2 separate regions of the Homo sapiens genome follow, and region 2 is linked to region 1. Evidence: fine-mapped expression QTL. A gene starts in region 1. The other region holds a variant in brackets. All regions are shown on one strand. Distances are from middle to middle.

Region 1 (5,374 bases):
AGTGATTCTCCTGCCTCAGCCTCCTAAGCAGCATCTGCACCACCACACCCGACTAATTTTTTGTATCTTTAGTAGAGACGGGGTTTCATCATGTTGGCCAGGCTGGTCTCGAACTCCTGACCTCATGATCCACCTGCCTCAGCCTCCCAAAGTGCTGAGATTATAGGCGTGAGCCACTGCGCACAGCCTACAGTTTTAACATTTTTTTTAACGGTTATGTTAGCTAGAATGTTTGACAATGAGGAGGAGAAAAATCTGAGTGCTGAAGGGTCCATAAAGGTCTTTCTTTTTCTTTTTTTTCTTTTTGAGACAGGGTCTCAGTCTGTTGCTCAAGCTGGAGTGCAGTTGTGCCATCATGGCTCACTACAAACTCCACCTCCCAGGCTCAAGCAATTCTCCCACTTCTGCCTCTGGAGTAGCTGGGACTACAGGCACCTGCCACCACACTCTGCTAATTATATTTTTTGTAGAGACAAGAGTTTAGCCTTGTTGCCCAGGCTGGTCTCCAACTCCTGGGTGGCAAGCAATCCTCCTGCCTCAGCAACCCAAAGTGCTGAAATTACAGCAGTGAGCCACAACTCCTGGCCCATAAAGGTCTTTCTAAATCAAAACCAGACCCTCTTGTTGTCTTCTGCCCAGTCTGCTCATGGTTCTAATTTCCAAGTGTATATTCTTTTTCACCCACGTTGTAATGTTTGTTGACTTAAACCATATAGCGCTATAGATGATGGGGAGAAAACCTGTTGGATCACATTATTCAAAACTGTTTCCCAGAGTCGCAGGAAAACAATAGGTACCTCCTTGGAAATCTCCACTGTAGGGACAAGTCATCAAGGCTCAGCACCTCCCAATTTTTGCAAAAGGCACTATGACAAATCAAGGAACGCCTGTGCCTTACTCTTACCACTAGGTGTCACACAAAACAATCAGGAATAAACACCAAGATCCTGAAGGCTACCAGAAATATAAAACCATAGAAGGTGGTGCAAAAAAACCTTATTCCTCAGATATTTTTATTTTTTATAACCATTTTTATACCTGAAGCCAAATATCTTCTTCTGATGTATCCTCTATAATTGGGACATTTAGAGTTTGATGTTTCTGTACTTGTTTAAAAGAAGTGACTATCCCCAGATGGGGGTCAGGGGACACCCACCCTTTATTTTCCCTAACAGTTGGAGTAGAAAATACTTTTGAGTACATTCCAAATTATAGTGTAGTCAGTCTGATTTTCACAGCGTGTTTTCAAAAGTGTTAATACTAAGACTGCTTTGGCCAAATGATTAATATACTGCCAAGGGGTTCCTGGGTAAATTTCTATGCATTTCAGTTTCTTTTTAGGGAAGTAGGAACAATATCTATCTTACAAGATTAGTTCTGAGAACAATGTGGTACATAAGGCGCTGGAATTCTTTCAAAAATTTATACCCTGACATTTCCAAGAGCCATGGTCACCCTTACAAAGGAGAGTTAGGCATGCATTTGTAGACAAGCAATATGACTTTTAAGCTAGAAAAGACCTTAAGTAACATTCAATCTAATCTTATTATAAAAGTTAAGTATACCACAAAAAAGTTAACTGACCTCTCCAACTAATGTGCAGTCAAGTAAAGATAGAACCTGGAATTGAGATGTCCCATTGCAGTCACTGTTTCACCTTGCCTCAATCATTGTAGATTTGCATATCATAAACCTGCAGAGACAATGGTGTCTATCCCTGGGAAGTTTTCATTGTAACATGTGATCATTATTACCCTGGAGGGTCTATCTGATTTTAATTTTTTTCCCTTCATACTTGGTCTCTCTCTATCGAGTCAGATTTCTTTCATTCTAATATTAGGGGAGGGGTGGAGATACGAAGAGAGGGGAAGGATTGGTTAGTACAAGGCCAGTCAAGGTAAAGATGATTGCAATAATCACCAGAAATCTCTGCAGAACTACAGAGGCCTCCTGGGACTAATTCTGAAGAGCTCTGACCGAAGTTTGCTTTATTTTGCCTGTACCAATTCTACCAAGTAGATGAATTCAGTCCATGGCTTGCAGGCTTGGAGGTGGAGGTGGAGTGGAGAGCATAAATTATATTTCTGCAGGTGAAACCAGAGCATAGTGAGCCGAAACCCCTTTCTACCCAGGTGGCGTGAATGGGTCCAACTGCTACTGTCCCCCAGGACAAGAGAGCAAGGAGGGGCGGGCAGGATGGGACTACCTTGAGCCTCCCGCAGGATGCCTGGCAACTACTTTCTTAGTGGTCCTTAAGGTCCAATCGCGGTTAAGGCACTAACTAAACTCATTCTTCAGCCTCCTTCTCTAAGTTCTCCTCGAATTTGGGTGCCCAGAAGTAGGCTCACGATCCTTTTTCTGCGGGAGCACAATGTAGGTCAGATAGCATAAACGAATAGCTACTTATGAACACAATAGCTACTCTGCTATTGCAAGGTATCCACAACCACCACTACAAACATTAACACCTTGCTTTACTTGGGAAACAAAAAAAATCATGGTCCTATTCAGCAGTTTCCCCATACAGGGAGCGTTTGCCCCTCCCCCAGTCAACAGGGCTGTTCATCCCTAGGAAGTGATTTGAGAGTTCTCCAAGGATTTAGGCTTTTCACTCCTCCAAAGCTTTCACAACTTCTACCTGGCGGGGGTGCGTGGGGGGGTGGGGGCGAAGCTAAAAGTTCCTTTGCTGCAAAGAGCCTGGTATAGGCAGAAACACCGGCGCGGCCTGCAGCCCCCTAACCACAGTGCGTCCTTCCCCTTAGAAGTCTGGGGAAAGCAAATCCCTACGCCCAGCCATCATTTCCACTCTTGCGTTTTCAAAAGATCAAAAAACGGAAAGGACCGGCAGGTTGGCAAACCCCAAAGAGGGACCGCCCATCAGGTCGGCGTCCTTGGGATCTCAGCAGCCGACGACCCCAATTCAAATCGATCGTGGGAAACCCCAGGGAAAGAAGGCTCACTTGCAGAGGGACAGGATTACAGGGTGCAGGCTGCAGGGAAGTACCGGGGGGAGGGGGCCTGGTCGGAAGGACTTTCCAGCCACTCGGCGCTCATCAAAAAGTTCCCTGTCCGTGACCCTAGTGGCTCATCGCAGGGAGTTTCTCCGATGAACCCCAGCTCAGGGTTTAGGCTTCTTTTTCCCCCTAGCAGAGGACGAAGCCAGTTCTCTTTTTCTGGTCTGACTGGCTTGGAAATTCCCCGAGCCTGACCCCGCCCCAGAGAAATCCCCAGCCAGCGTTTATAGGGCGCCGCGGCGGCGCTGCAGAGCCCACAGCAGTCCGTGCCGCCGTCCCGCCCGCCAGCGCCCCAGCGAGGAAGCAGCGCGCAGCCCGCGGCCCAGCGCACCCGCAGCAGCGCCCGCAGCTCGTCCGCGCCATGTTCCAGGCGGCCGAGCGCCCCCAGGAGTGGGCCATGGAGGGCCCCCGCGACGGGCTGAAGAAGGAGCGGCTACTGGACGACCGCCACGACAGCGGCCTGGACTCCATGAAAGACGAGGAGTACGAGCAGATGGTCAAGGAGCTGCAGGAGATCCGCCTCGAGCCGCAGGAGGTGCCGCGCGGCTCGGAGCCCTGGAAGCAGCAGCTCACCGAGGACGGGGACTCGTAAGTGGCGGAGGCCCGGGGCTGGGGGTCGTCGGGAGGGCGGGACGCGCGCGGCCTGGGGGTGGGAGGCGCCGGGCCTGGAGCCCGAGCCGGGGGACCAGCGATGCAGCCGGGCGGGCGCCGCGGCACCCCGGGGCTCCTGCACCGCCCCGAACGCTGCAGGGCTGCAGGGCCGCGCGGGGCACCGGCCCAACTCGGAGGGGCGGCGGCTGGGCCCTGGTGGATGGCAGCGTCGCCACACGCCCCCTCCCCCCAGACCCGTCCTCTAGGCCGGGGGCGGGGCGGCAGCGGGGACGCGAAGTCCCCGGTTGCATAAGGCGGGGCGGGAGTTTCTGGCCGCTGGCGGGCGCCGAGCAGCCGGGAGGGGAAGTACAGGGCGTTCCGAGCTGGCGGGAGGGCGGGGCGGTCTGGCCGGCGCCCGCCGGGGCCGCGGGGGGAGGGGGGCGGAAAGTCCCTGGGCGCCTGCCAGGAACACTCAGCTCATAATAACCTCGCGGAAAACACCGCGGCCTCGGCCTCCAGAAACCCCGGCCTTGCGCAATCCCCCGCAGCCCGCGCCTCCCTGGGCCCCACGCGGTGCACTCACCACCCCTGGGGTTTTTCCCTCTCTTCCCCACAGGTTCCTGCACTTGGCCATCATCCATGAAGAAAAGGCACTGACCATGGAAGTGATCCGCCAGGTGAAGGGAGACCTGGCCTTCCTCAACTTCCAGAACAACCTGCAGCAGGTGCGCCGCTTGCCTGGCCCGGGTTCTCTCTGACCCTGGGACGTAGCTGATGTAGCAGAGTCACCCCAGATCCTTTCTGAATTCAGGGCCACTGAGCACTATTTACCCTCACCTTTTACTTCACATCAGCCCACATCCTAGAGAGTGAAGGAAATTCCACTGATTTGGTGAGGTCTTTATGACCCACCTGGAGCCTCTGCTATTTGCCAGCCCTCCCCACCCCCCTGTCTAGGAGGAGCAGCACCCAACCAGGAGACACGGGTTGAGGGGAACTCGGGGTGTGGGTTTGGTCCATGGCTTACTTTCTCTGGTCTCTCTTGCATTCGTAGACTCCACTCCACTTGGCTGTGATCACCAACCAGCCAGAAATTGCTGAGGCACTTCTGGGAGCTGGCTGTGATCCTGAGCTCCGAGACTTTCGAGGAAATACCCCCCTACACCTTGCCTGTGAGCAGGGCTGCCTGGCCAGCGTGGGAGTCCTGACTCAGTCCTGCACCACCCCGCACCTCCACTCCATCCTGAAGGCTACCAACTACAATGGTATGTCTGCCTCCCTGCCCTGCCCCACCCCCTCGGAGGGCAGGTGACGTGGAGAAGGGGCAGGTGGGCCAACTTAAGGAGTCCAGGCAAGAGCTTAAACTCCTAACATTTGGAAGGTTGAGAAAATATGTGTGCAAAGTGCCTATTGGATGCCTTTATAAAGTTCTTTCAGAACCCAGACTGTGGGTTCTTAAAATTCAGAAGATAAGACTACTTGTTCCATAAAAGAATAGGTGAAAGGAGTGAGGGTTGAAACAGGTGGTTATACTTTTTTCCTTTTGTTCTTCCAGGCCACACGTGTCTACACTTAGCCTCTATCCATGGCTACCTGGGCATCGTGGAGCTTTTGGTGTCCTTGGGTGCTGATGTCAATGCTCAGGTTGGTGCTTCCTGCCCCCGACGCACTGAGTCAGGCTCCTCGTGCTTATGTTGTGAGCAGAAATTCCAAATGCAGCCATAAGCATCTCAAATTCCTTTTGGTTTCAGGAGCCCTGTAATGGCCGG
Region 2 (5,374 bases), 320 kb after region 1:
GTATGGTCTCGATCTCTTGACCTTCTGATCTGCCCGCCTCGGCCCCCCGAAGTGCGTATCCTGTTTTTATAGGGAAGGCTTTCTGTTCTCTTCATGTCTTTCTGGCCTTTCCATTTTGCCTTTTTATGGATGAGAGCAGTGTCAGCTCACTGTAAAATGTCTGGCAATCTCAAGACAGCTTCTTATTGGAAATCTGAATTAAAAATTTTAAACAATATTTTAAAATAGCAATTTAAATATACTGTTCTGAGACTGGGCACGGTGGCTCACACCTGTAATCCTAGCATTTTGGGAGGCCGAGGTGGGTGGATCACCTGAGGTTGGGAGTTTTGAGACCAGCCTGACCAACTTGGAGAAACCGCTTCTCTACTAAAAATACAAAATTAGCCAGGCGTGGTGGTGCATGCCTGTAATCCCAGATACTCAGGAGGCTGAGGCAGGAGAATGACTTGAACCTGGGAGGCAGAGGTTGTGGTGAGCCAGGATCGCGCCATTGCACTCCAGCCTGGGCAACAAGAGCGAAACTCCATCTCAAAAAAAAAATTATACTGTTCTGTTCATTCCAGATAAAAAATTTGTTTTTCAAAATAACTGCACTGAAATGAAGTTATAAGTTTATAGCTTAGTCATCTGTTTCAAAAGTTTGAAGCAGGATGCAGTAGTTCATCCCTCTAGTCCCAGCACTTTGGGAGGCCGAGGCCAGATGATTGCTTGAGCCCAGGAGTTTGAGACTAGCATGGGTAATACAGGAAAACCCCATCTCTACAAAGAATTTAAAAAATTAGCCAAGTGTGATGGCGTGTACCTGTAGTCTCAGCTGCCTCGGAGGCTGTAGTGGGAAGATTGCTTGAGCCTGGGAGATCAAGGTTGCAGTGAACTATGATCGTACCACTGCACTCCAGCCTGGTTGATAAAGTGAGACCCTGTCTCAAAAACAAGAATAATGAAAGAAAATTATAGTTTAACACAGCAAATCTCTCATAAAAAAATGAACTAGGGCTGGGCACAGTGGTGCATGCCTATAATCCCAGCACTTTGGGAGGCCGGGGCAGGCGGGTCACTTGAGGTCAGGAGTTTGAGACCAGCTTGGGTAACATGGAAAATCCTGTCTCTACTAAAAATATAAAAATTAGCTGGGCATAGTGGTGTGCACCTGTATTCCCAGCTACTTGGGAGGCTGAGACAGGAGAATCGCTTGAACCTGGGAGGCAGAGGTTTCAGTGAGCTGAGATTGCACCACTGCACTCCAGCCTGGGCAATAGAGCAAGACTCCGTCTCAAAAAAATAAATAAATAAAAAAGAACTATGTCCTCAAAACTGTCCTGTGTAGATTATATATAGAATTCCTATGGCTGGGCAGGGTGGCTCACACCTATAATCCCAGCACTTTGGGAGGCTGAGGCGGGCGGATCACCTGAGGTCGGGAGTTCGAGACCAGCTTGACCAACATGGAGAAACCCCATCTCTACTAAAAATACAGAATTAGCCAGGCATGGTGGCACATGCCTGTAATCCCAGCTACTCCGGAGGCTGAGGCAGGAGAATTGCTTGAACCCGGGAGGTGGAGGTTGTGGTGAGCCAAGATTGTGCCATTGCAACTCCAGCCTGGGCAATGAGAGTGAAACTCTGTCTCGAAAAAAATTCCCTAGAAACCAATATTAAGTATATAAATGGATTTCTCATATCATAACTTAGGGAAAAAATTAAATTTGCCACCTTTGATTGCAAAATAGCTTCAAATCATAAGATATTCACTTGAAAGTTAATTTCAACTAAGGCCTCTAATGAACATTATTTTCTGTTCTGTAGGACTATAAGACCTACTTGGACTTTGTCCTTGCATTAGAAAACAGAAAGGAACCTGCAGCTCTACAATATATTTTCAAACTGCTTGATATTGAGAACAAAGGATACCTGAATGTCTTTTCACTTAATTATTTCTTTAGGGTAAGTCTCATTTGCATAAGTGAGTCATTGTTCCTTAAGATATATCATTTTGTTGCTGCCGGTGCAGTGGCTCACGCCTGTAATCCCAGCACTTTGGGAGGCCGAGGCAGGTGGATCACAAGGTCAGGAGATAGAGACCATCCTGGCTAACATGGTGAAACCCCGTCTCTACTAAAAATACAAAAAATTAGCCAGGTGTGGTGGTGGGTGCCTGTAGTACCAGCTATTTGGGAGGCTGAGGCAGGAGAATGGCGTGAACCCGGGAGGCAGAGTTTGCAGTGAGCCGAGATCGTGCCACTGCACTCCAGCCTGGGCGACAGAGCGAGACTCCGTCTCAAAAAAAAAAAAAAAAAAAAAATTGTGAGATGCAGCAAAAGCAGTGGCTAGAGGGAAATTTATAGTATTGAATGCATATACTGGAAAATGTTAAAGATCTAAAATCAGCATCTACTTTAGGAAATTAGAAAAAGAAGAGCAAATTAAAGATATATCATTTGGTTTAAATTAAATATTTAGTAACCATTTTACCTAACTCGTGATTTTTATTTATTTTTTTCTTTTTTTGAGAAAGGGTCTGGCTCTGTCGCCCAGGCTGCAGTGGCATGATCATAGCTCGCCGCAACCTCCAACTCCTGGGCTCAGGCAGTCTTCCCACTCAGCCTCCCCAATAACTGGGTCCACATGCCTGTAATCCCAGCTACTTGGGAGGCTGAGGCAGGAGAATCACTTGAACCCAGGAGGCGGAGGTTGCAGTGAGCTGAAATCGCGTCACTGCATTCTAGCTTGGGCAGCAAAGCAACACTCGGTCTCAAAAAAAAAAAAAAAAAAAAAACTACAACTACCAAAGTCTATAAAAATTTCTGTGGAAAGGAGCTACCTTTTCTGAACTGCTTAGCATCTTACAAGTTTTTCATCACAAGTATAGAATTTATCACATATTTGTATTTCCAATGGTAGTACAGCCCCTGACGTATATTTACATATTTTTATTTTACATCTAGTCAAATCAGCTTTCACTCAATTTTTTTAAGTAGGAAAGAAAACTAAAAACTTGATTTCTTTCTGAAATCTGTTATGTAAATGCTTTTATTAAATTTAAAAATCGGCCGGGTTGCGGTGGCTCATGCCTGTAATCCCAGCACTTTGGGA[G/A]GCCAGGGTGGGCGGATCGCAAGGTCAGGAGATCAAAACCATCCTCACTAACATGGTGAAACCCATCTCTACTAAAAATGCAAAAAAATCAGCCGGGCGTGGTGGCGGGCGCCTATAGTCCCAGCTACTCGGGAGGCTGAGGCAGGAGAATGGCATGAACCCAGGAGGCAGAGCTTGCAGTGAGCCGAGATTGCGCCACTGCACTGCAGCCTGGGTAACAGAGCGAGACTGAGTCTCAAAAAGAAAAAAAAAAATTAAAAAATCATACCCCAGGCATGGTGGCTCACACCTGTAATCCTAGCACTTAGGGAAGCTGAGGCAGGAGGTTCACTTGAGCACAGGAGTTTGAGACCAGCCTGGGCAACACAGGGAAACCCCAACTTCTACAAAAAATTTAAAAAATTAGCTGGGTGTAGTGGTCACATGCCTGTGGTCCCGGTTACTGGGGAGGCTGTGCCCAGCCAGTTGTAGATACTTTTATTTGCTATGTTGAAATAAACCATGAAAATAATTTTTAGGCCAGGCGTGGTCGCTCATGCTTCTAATCCCAGCACGTTGGGAGGCCAGGGAAGGAGGGTTGCTTGAGCCCAGGAGTTGGGAAACCAGCCTGGGCAACATAGGGAGACTCCATCTCTACAAAAAAATTAAAAATTAGCTGGGTGTGGTGGCACATGCCTGCAGTCCCAGCTACTTGAGAGGCTAAGGTGGGAAGATCACTAGAGTCCGGGAGGTCAAGGCTGCAGTGATCCATGATTTGCCACTGCACTACGGCCTGAATGACAGAGTAAGACCCTATCTCTAAAAATAAAAATTAAAAAAACTGAATGCTATATGGGCTTATATCAGCGGCTCATCTGAGAAAATAAATACCAACCCATCATAGGAATGCCCCTACTTTAGACAAACCTATTAGGTAAAAATCCAGTCTTAAGAAAATAAATGTATTTGAAATTAAACACTGCTCTTTTTCATAAAGATTTCTTTACAGTATTTTCTACTCTTAGAATATTAAATTGTTTTAAAACTACTTTAAAAATATTTCATATAGGCATTTTGTCAAAGCTTATTTAGGCTTGGTTATATGGGATAAGGTAAAAAGTGTCCAATGCTGAGCCCTATAATCCTGGGCTGTTCACAGAGCGTTTGGACATCACTATCCTAATGATAAAGCTGGGTCTGGATGATTCACTCTAGATCATACCATCTATTACTATATTAACAGAGCATGTACTCAGATTCTTATCTACTTCAAAGGGATTCCTTTATGGATACTCTGATTATTAGTGGTAACAGAGTAGGCATCGGGAACAAAGTTGACTGTTCACCAAGAATTTGAAACTTCACATTTCCAGTGAATAATGCTCACCTGAAGTATTTTGTATTCCTACTGGATGACAGCAGTTTCTTCATTTTTTTGTTAAAGTTTATGAAAAGGAAGAGTTTTGGGAGGTCTACCTCCATTTCTTGTATTACGTAGAAAGCAAAGTGTAGGGTAGGAAGGGAGACAGTAGATTGGGGATCTTAAGAGAATAGTGAAGGCAGGAATAACATTCATGGAAAATGAGAGGAGCAGATCAAACAGAATAATTGTGAGGCCATGCTGAGGGCCTGTTTGAGGTTGGAGAACATTCCTATGTAGAAGCAGCAATCCGTAATCTTTTTATTTTTTTTCCTGAAGTTCTCAATAGTTAAGATATAGGTCTAAAAAGGTCAATACACTAATCGAGAATTTAGGTTTTGCTCACTGATGTGGAATAAGGTCAAGAAAGCTAAGAAGATTGGCAAGAGAGAGAATGATGAGGTTTGTGGCCTGATAGGAAAGGAAGTATAAGTAGAAAGGGGTTGTAGGGCAAAAGAGGGATGTTGTGTATTTCATTTTTTATTTACAGATTTATTTCTATTAAATACAGGCCATACAGGAACTAATGAAAATCCATGGACAAGATCCTGTTTCATTTCAAGATGTCAAGGTTATCTTTTCCTTTAATTTACGTATTACCAGATAATTATGAGATAGTCATTTGTATTACATGAAATTTTATATGAAAGCAACTAATGAAGTACTATTTGAATCAAGTGTTTGCTTTTTGTTCTGAACTGATATTTAAATCATTACGAACTGAGACCACATTTGGACTATTTATGTAGTTTATAATTTTAGTATTGTCATCATTATGTTTTCATTGGAAGCATTCATTCATTTTAATTAAGACAGTCAGGGGGCCGGGCTCAGTGGCTCATGCTTGTAATCCCAGCACGTTGGGAGGCTGAGGCGGGC

What was found. PIP is the estimated chance that this variant, and not a neighbour inherited with it, causes the effect.
Region 2: its variant is the best candidate, but not a certain one, in a credible set for the expression of NFKBIA in whole blood (INTERVAL, PIP 0.68).

Annotation. Positions count from the first base shown.
Region 1 is chr14:35,402,646-35,408,019 of GRCh38, reverse strand. NFKBIA (NFKB inhibitor alpha) reads left to right here and starts at 3,271. Exons shown (of 6, transcript NM_020529.3): 1 at 3,271-3,602; 2 at 4,222-4,330; 3 at 4,660-4,870; 4 at 5,161-5,249; 5 at 5,357-5,374. The coding sequence starts at 3,376. RefSeq lists enhancers at 773-832, 2,810-3,209, 2,414-3,285, 4,390-4,439, 4,470-4,779 and 1 more and silencers at 3,280-3,449, 3,600-4,189.
Region 2 is chr14:35,087,643-35,093,016 of GRCh38, reverse strand. It overlaps PPP2R3C (protein phosphatase 2 regulatory subunit B''gamma), which reads left to right. Exons shown (of 13, transcript NM_017917.4): 11 at 1,810-1,947; 12 at 5,007-5,066. The region is part of intron 1 of LOC101927178 (a long non-coding RNA gene); the gene reads right to left. Among named protein-coding and RNA genes, the nearest start is that of PRORP-PSMA6, 32 kb to the left of the region's middle. The variant G/A (reference allele first, on the strand shown) is at 3,097.